Linked DNA regions of Homo sapiens. The protein of the gene in region 2 purifies or fractionates together with the protein of the main gene of each other region. This does not show direct contact. Each region holds a gene or a part of one and is shown on either strand. Other genes may lie near its edges.

Evidence for each region.
Region 1: the proteins of SEC16B (region 2) and POTEF purify together in Homo sapiens (affinity purification with mass spectrometry; 2 studies listed by BioGRID and IntAct, with this or other methods). This does not show direct contact.

The regions. Positions count from the first base shown.
Region 1 is NC_000002.12:130,087,620-130,091,436, reverse strand, and holds part of POTEF (POTE ankyrin domain family member F), read left to right. Parts: intron 1-3,299; coding exon 3,300-3,370; intron 3,371-3,817.
Region 2 is NC_000001.11:177,967,070-177,971,341, forward strand, and holds the start of SEC16B (protein transport protein Sec16B), read right to left. Parts: upstream 2,990-4,272; 5' UTR 2,815-2,989; intron 971-2,814; 5' UTR 913-970; coding exon 614-912; intron 1-613. Other genes in the region: CRYZL2P-SEC16B (protein transport protein Sec16B), read right to left, coding at 614-912. UniProt on the Homo sapiens protein: Plays a role in the organization of the endoplasmic reticulum exit sites (ERES), also known as transitional endoplasmic reticulum (tER). Required for secretory cargo traffic from the endoplasmic reticulum to the Golgi apparatus.

The DNA.
Region 1 (3,817 bases), on a different chromosome or scaffold from region 2:
CTTCCTGTAACATTTCATTGGCTGGGTCATACCACATGCTCATTCCCAAACCAGGCACTGGGAAGGTAAATATCTGATTAGCTTAGAATAAACATTTCTTTCTGAGGCTGAGGAGGGGGATTGGGATATTAAATATCCCAATAGACTTATGTTTTTTCTGCCAGAAAGAATGAGGAATGGCTATTGATAGGGAGCCAACAATGTGTGCTGGAGGGGGCTCATTGGAGAAATTTGAGCAGGGGAGCCACAAGATTAAATTTGAGTATTAAGGCATTCTGGTTATGGTGTAAAATGGGTTAGCAAGCTTTTTCTTTAAAGGACCAGGTGGGAAATATTTTGGACTATGTGGTCTCTGTCATATCTACTTAACCGTGCTGTTGTCTGCTGTTGTAGTGTGAAAGCCACCATGATTATATGTAAGCAAACAGGCATGACTGAGCTCCTATAAAACTTTATTTACAAAACCATAATGCAGATTGGATTTGGCCTGTGGCCTATAGTTTCCTGGGATTGATGGGAGATAATCATGCAAAGAAACCAGGAGACAAAGGAAGCTTTTGCAGTAGTCAGCTATAGTTTCCATGTCACACATCCTTGGAGTAGCATCAATGTATTACAAGGTTTTCACCCGTCCATGGTAAAATAAATAACGTTAGAAATCTCAGTTACTCATTTTACTATGTTGGCCTTCGTTATGCCTTTTTCACTTGTTTTGCTTAATTTTTTTTCCTGTAAGAAATAACATTAATAGTTGGCAGTTTTCTTTTAAATAGAAGTCATTTTGTAAATGTTTGTGTTCCCAGTGGCAGTGGGAATATAAAACAGAGGCAGAAGAGAGGTATAGTCAATATGATTTAGTGATAATTGAATGAGAAAGGCTTGGGGGACAGAGAGAAATCTCAGATGATGTACAGGTTTCCAGATTGCACACTAGTATTTAACCTGGACATGAGGAAGGAGTAGGAAATTTTCTGGTGAATACAGGAGAGCAAAGAGCAGCAGGTCAGCAGGAATGACTAATGTTTTTCGATGCATGTTTAATGGAATATTCGTGTAGGGTATTTTGAGTAGGTAATTGGATAATCAGCATTTATAACTCGCATCCTACTAGTTTGACTCTAAGTAATAAGACTTGTCAAAGATCCAAGAATCTGAAAGTCAGTAATAAATGTCCATGTGCATCATCGTCCGTGACAGAAAGTCAGCATCCACAGAACACAGAATTGGGACAGATGAACTTAATAGATAAAGATGAATATCGGAGTTGTTCCTCTTAGGGAATGATACTCTCCATGACCTGTGTGAGTCACAGCTGCCAGAAAAGAAAGAGCAAGGAGCGTATGAAGGCAGCACAGCAAATTCGGTCCTAGAGTGCCCTGCTTGGCTTCATGTCATAGTTCTGACTTCTAAATAATCATTTTCTGCAAAATGTGCTTTTTGTTTTTCCCTCTTGCCGCCTGCAGCCAATCAGAATCTTTTTAGCAGGACATAATGAAAAGAAGTAAGAGAAAGAGTGTTTTTTTGTAATGGGATAGTATTTAACGTAAACTTGAGAGTGAGTACCAGGATTATACTTAGAATTTATGGACTGGATGGGAAGACTGGATAGAAATCTAAAGATTGCTGACTCAAACACAATGTGGTTTCTTTGATTTATTTTCACAGCTCTGAATTCACGACTGTTAATTGTATTCATATGCATTATAACTTTACAAAGCATCTTCCGAAACCAAATATTTACTGATTTATTATAATTTGTATGACTTTATTATAGAACTGACTTTCCAAGTGTTCATGAGAATTGTTTAGAATTTGCTACATTGTATCATCTCAGCTGTGTCCACATGAGCTATCTGTCACCTTGTCTTAATGAATAATTGTTCACTAGGAATATTGGTTTTGGCATTGAAATGATCTATATCTAAATGCAGATAGGACCCGGGACCACTTTTGAACATTAATGTTCAAGCATCTTAAAATTACACATAATGCTTTCATAATCTGACTTCTGCCCCACTCTCCATCTTTAGCCCTTTTCCCTGTGTGCCCTGTCTCTGGCATTACTGAACTGCTGGCAGTGCCCTACTCACTCATCCTTCTATTGTAGGCAAATACTTTCACTCTTTCAGGAGTCGCTCCCGCTCTTGCTGCTGCGTGGCATGCCGTCACCCTTTCCTGCCCTCTACACCTTTTAATCTGGCTAGTCTCAATATTTAAGTCTCTGCTTGGGCATGTGTTCTAGAAAAGCCATCTCTGACATGCTTTATTTTAATTCTTTTTAAACCCTAATGCCTAGCATGTATTTAGCAGGACTCAATAAAATATTTCTGAGTAAAACAAAGACTGTTTTTACAAAGATGATGTGCAAGACTCTCCCCTGCAGTCTTGGAGCAGAGGGGACAGACGTGGAGGAATAATGTACAGTTTAGGTGGTCAAGATGCAGTAGAAAAATCAGTAAAGTACTAAGGCAGCCTCAAGGAAGGAGGTACCTGTTTATTTGGGGAAAGACATGCAGAATCAAGGAAGACTTCATATAGCATTGTTTCAAAAGATGAAAATAAGGCCAGGTGTGGTGGCTCACACCTGTAATCCCAGCACTTTCAGAGGGAATCACGAGGTCAGGAGATCGAGACCATCCTGTCCAATGGTGAAACCCCATCTCTACTAAAAATACAAAAATCAGCTGGGTGTGGTGGTGCTTGCCTGTAATCACAGTTACTCAGGAGACTGAAGCAGGAGAATCACTTGAACCAGGGTCGCGGAGGTTGCAGTGAGCTGATCACACCACTGCATTCCAGCCTGGTGACAGAGGAAGACTCTAGCTCATAAAAAAAAAAAAAGAAAAAAGAAAAAAAGAAAATAAATTTGTCAGAATAGTGGAGAGAAACATTTTAGATATTAGGAAGATGTTGTACACTAATAAAGGTGTCAGCAGTGATTTTGGAAATCATTTATAAGGTACTATTAGGAAGTGGAGAACAGTACACTGTGTCACCTTATATGTTTCTACTGTATTTTAAAGCTGTGTTTCTGGTGGTTTTGTTCATGGATGTTGGGTGGATGAATTTGTGAGGGAATTTTTGACATGTTTGTTTGTCTTCAATCTGGTGACATCTGCTATCTCCCCAAGTGGGTTTTTGAAGTTTTTGAGAATTATTTCTTAAATGACAATTTCACAAAAGATGAAACACTCAATTTATGAAATAAAATGAAATGTCTCAAATCTGTTTTTAAAAGGCAATAGTTTTTAACTGTTTTAAGTGGTTGATTTTAACTGAATGTATGGATTTTTCAACAGAACAAGACTTAAAGCTGACATCAGAGGAAGAGTCACAAAGGCTTAAAGGCAGTGAAAATGGCCAGCCAGAGGCATGGAAACTTTTAAATTTAAACTTTTGTTTAATGTTGTGTTTTTTTTGCCTTAATAATATTAGATAGTCCAAATGAAATTACCTTTCAGACTAGGCTTTGAGAATCAGTAGATTGTTTTTTTAAGAATCTTTTGGCCAGGCAAGGTGGCTCACGCCTGTAATCCCAGCACTTTGAGAGGCTGAGGCAGGTGGATCACGAGGTCTGGAGATCGAGACCATCCTGGCTAACATGGTGAAACCCCGTCTCTAGTAAAAATACAAAAACTTAGCTGGGCGTGGTGGTGGGTGCCTGTAGTCCCAGCTACTCGGGAGGCTGAGGCAGGAGAATGGCATGAACCCAGGAGAGGGAGCTTGCAGTGAGCCGACATCCACCACTACACTCCAGCCTGGGTGACAGAGCGAGACTCCATGTGAAAAAAAAAAAAAAAAAAATTTTAATAGATTC
Region 2 (4,272 bases):
AACCTGGATAGAATGACCTCACTGCAACCTCTTCCTTCCGAACTTGGAGCCTGCAGGTTTCTATCTGCTTTCCCTGAGGTCAATTTTTTTTAAGTTCCCATTCATTCAATACAGATTATTGGTATGCCTGTTCCATTCCGGGTACTGTCGTAGGCACTAGGACTCTTCTTGGTGCTGGTAGTGTCATGCTAATCCCAAGGTAGAGTGGTCCAATGACAACGAGGAACTCCTTATAGGGATCTCCAAGAAAAGCTTTTCCATAGTCTACATAAATGAACTTTTGCAATCCCAGAGCAAGAGGGTTCCATCTGCTGTCTTGAATTTCACCACTTTTTCTACCCTTGACACTGCCTCCCCAAGCCCCCATACCCAGTGGCATTTGTGATGGCTTCTTTAAGAAGCTCCACTAGGGGAAAAACAGGAGAGAAATACTATCTTCAGTCATCAAAAACAAATTTGGGAGAGGACAGGATTTAGCTAAAGCCACGTAGTAAGGTAGAGAAGGAAAAAGAAAAAAGGGGGAGAAAAATAAAAGGAAAAGGAAGAAGGAAAAGAACAACCTATTCATACGCATTTAGGAGAGTTGCATTCATTCCAAGCCCTAAAGCCATACCTTGAATACAACTGATTGCGATAACCACCTTCGTAATAGTCAACTCCAGACACAGGCTGATGCCAGTCCCCTGGCCTGGATGCATAATGGGGCTGCTGCTGATGGTCTGCCCTGGGCTCCTGCTGTGGCTGGGGGCTCCCACGGTTGTCTTGCCATTGGTGAAACCTCTCTCCATTGTGCCAAGAGTGAGGGACAGGCCGATGATGTCCATCTCTCCGAAACCCTCGGTCTGGATCCTTTGAGGGTGCTGTGGCCTTCCCTCGTGTCTGGGGCAGCCTCTGGGGAGCCCAAAGTTCCATCCTTGACTCTCTGAATTTGTCCTGGGTTTTGAGTAAGTTGTGCAGTTATTTTATCTTCCTGCAGACAAAAGAAAAAGGAAAAAATCATCACTTGAAGCCTATATCCAAACATAGTGGTTGATTAGGTTTTGTGAAAAGAGCAGCTATGGTCCTCGAAATATATCTAAAACAAACCATATGGTCACGGATACAGAGAAATCTGAGAAACAATCTCAGATACATGAAGCAAATAACAGACTAGACAATTATATTAATATTGCTTAAAAAATTAAAAAGTACATGTGGAACAACGACAGATGAGGGAGGCAAGGGAGACAGATAACAATAATAGGTACAGCTAAAAATGCTATCAAGGAATCCCAGTTGATGTTTCTTCACATATTCCCCCAGCAAGTGTTTATTTAACACTTACAGCGGAGGCCCTGTGGTATCATAAACAGAGTGGGTCTTGCAGAGAGCTAGATCAGAGTTCAAATCCTAACTCTGCCACTTAACTAGCTAGTTCATTTTTTCAAGCCTCAATTTCCTTACCCATGAAATGGAGACTGTAAGGACTACCTTGCAAGGTTATTGACAGAGTTAAAGATAACCTATGCGAAGTGCGTAACATGTTACCTAACATGTTAAAATGCTCAATAAATAGCAGTGTTATCAAGGATAAAGATTAGGGTAGTATGAGTGGCTGAAGATGTTTATTAAACAAAAAGAAATTTAGACTGACCTTTTCAAGAAGCACCTTTTCTGAATCCTTACATTAACCCCCTCAAAGAACTAGAACCTATATAATATGGTCATACCTGCTCCTCCTCCAGAGGAGCCAACAAGAGGCAAATTTGGGATTGTTTTCATAAGAAAATAGAAGGCCATATCTCAGGATTCTTCCCGGTTGGAGATTTTAAATGCTGAAAGTCTCCCTAGCATCAAACTAATTTTCCCCCACGTAATCCTGAAAAAGGGAAATTGCTCCAAGGACTGATTACCTTCCAGGTTCCTCTGCCCATTGCACGGGGTAGCGGGGGACAGGGGTTGCACCCACAAAAGGAAAGCACGCCTCAGATCTTACTCTTGCTCAGGGATTCCTTGTGTCAGGAGCATCCACAGGCTAGGTCGGCCTCGATTTTTTTCTTCCTTAGGAACTGTTTTAGGTTGCAAGATTCTGATCAAATCAGTTAACTTGTTTCCACTACTGAAGGTCCCAGCCTCATATAAAAATTCATATCAGAACAAAAGGTCAAAAGAGTGGGTGTTGAAATTGAGACGTCACTCTGCTCAAACACCAGGGAGCCGAGGTCGACAGCTATGAGCCAAGAGCTATGAGACGGCAGAACACACAAGAAGAACAAGGTGCGGAGGGGGCCTCCCACCTCAAGGTCACTCACAACTCAGGGGAACCTCTGGCTTCCTTCCCATATCATCTCACTCCCTTGAAAAAGCCAGGTGCAATGACAGCCTTTGCCAGCAAATCCCAGGAAAGGCCAAATGTCCCAGACACAGGGAAGGGCACATGAGCCTTTTCTGAAGGCTGGTGGAACTCAAAACCATTTGGACCAAGTAAGCAGAATGAGAAGAAACCTGCTTTCTCCTTGTCCCCAGATAGTCTCATTAGGCAGCCCTTTCCCAACTGCAAAGGTGCAACACCCAATCTTTCCACTGAAATCACATCATTTTGCTGCCAAGAGACATCAACTCCAGCAAATCAGTCCTCAGATTAAGGACACCAAATAAATAACACCTTCGATTCTCAAAATGAAGGAATTACATCTATGATGACAAATCAGACTCACACATTCATGTAGATGACCTTTCCTAGCCCCAGTAAAGGCAATCTTGCCTTTCCTAATCTGACGGCACAGCACGTCCAGCTCAAAGAGGGGAAAGAAGGGAGCGAGTGTTCCCACACACCTGCTCTGATGGCTTCCCACCTTCCTTCAGCGCTGCTCCAGGGACCTGGCCCAAGAGTGCCTCCTCTCCTCTTGGAGACTGTCAAAGTCCAGGTGCCACATCTACCAAGACTCCCCAGGCCCTCAGATCTACATCATGTCAGTTACCTTTGCAACTGCCCAACCTCCATGGAGCTGATTCATTAGGGCAAAGTACAGCCCAGATACCGCAGCCCAGGACCCGCCTGACTTGACGAATTTGCTCAGAACCCTGTCAGAGACTGGCGCTTCTGTTTGCCTGAGCATGGGCTGAGCCAGGTTCACTCACATGAGAAATCATCCAAATTCCCACAGCAATCACGGAAGAGAGACATCAGGAAGAGGAAGTCCAGAAGCCCCAAGGCAGCCTGGTCTGGCGAGAAAAGCACCACCTTTGGGGTGTTAACTCGGGGCTCTACCACTAGCTGGTTCTGTTACTTAACCTCTCCGAGTTTCAGTTTCTTTTTCTTTAAAATGGGAATGGCAATGCTTAGCTTATGAGGGTCATTACGGGGCTGAAATGTTGGTAAAGCAGCACATGATATATAGGTAAGTATGCCCTGCAGATCAATATTATCTTTTCCTTCCCAAAGAGACAAGTTAATTCCACTGGTTGAGGCACATGGGGAAGGGGACACGCTCACTGGTGGGAGCAAACACCTGGTTTGCCCAGTGTGGGTTTTTCTTATGTATATTTCTCACCATTGGGTTCTGGTTATGTAATAAATTCTGTCATCTAGCTGGAAGGCAGATTTATATCCCCAGTACTGAACTGAAGGCACTAAAAAGTTTTCCATTATAACAAGAAAGTAGTTTCTCGCACTTGAAATATACATTTCTTCTGCATTATTAAGGTAAACGCAGAAAAGCACATGACTACTTCTGAATTAATATTTTAAAATTCTGAATTTGCTCTTTTAAAAAATCCCAAATGGTTTATTCTTTCTCTCAACAAATGCTTACTGTGTTCCTATTAAGGGCCAGGATTTGACACACATAAATATAAAAGACACAAATTAGTCTCTCATGTCTGTCCTTACTAGTCCAGGGAAAACCACCCCTCTTGGGTCTCATGGTCATATAGGGTCATGTACCTAAGCTACAAGATTTTCTCTCAGCCCCTCAGCTGACTCTAGAACCCAGCAACTGAGCATAGAATTCTCTGACTGTAGCTAATGGTTTCTTTTTTTTTTTTTCCAAGACAGAGTCTTTCTCTGTCGCCCAGAGATGGAGTTTAATGGTACAATCTCAGCTCACTGCAACCTCTACCTCCCAGGTTCAAGCAATTCTCCTGCCTCAGCCTCCCGAGTAGCTGGGATTACAGGTGCGTGCCACCACCCCTGGCTAATTTTTGTATTTTTAGTAAAGAAGGGGTTTCATCATGTTGGCCAGGCTGGTCTCAAACTCCTGACCTTGTGATCCACCTGCCTGAGCCTCCCAA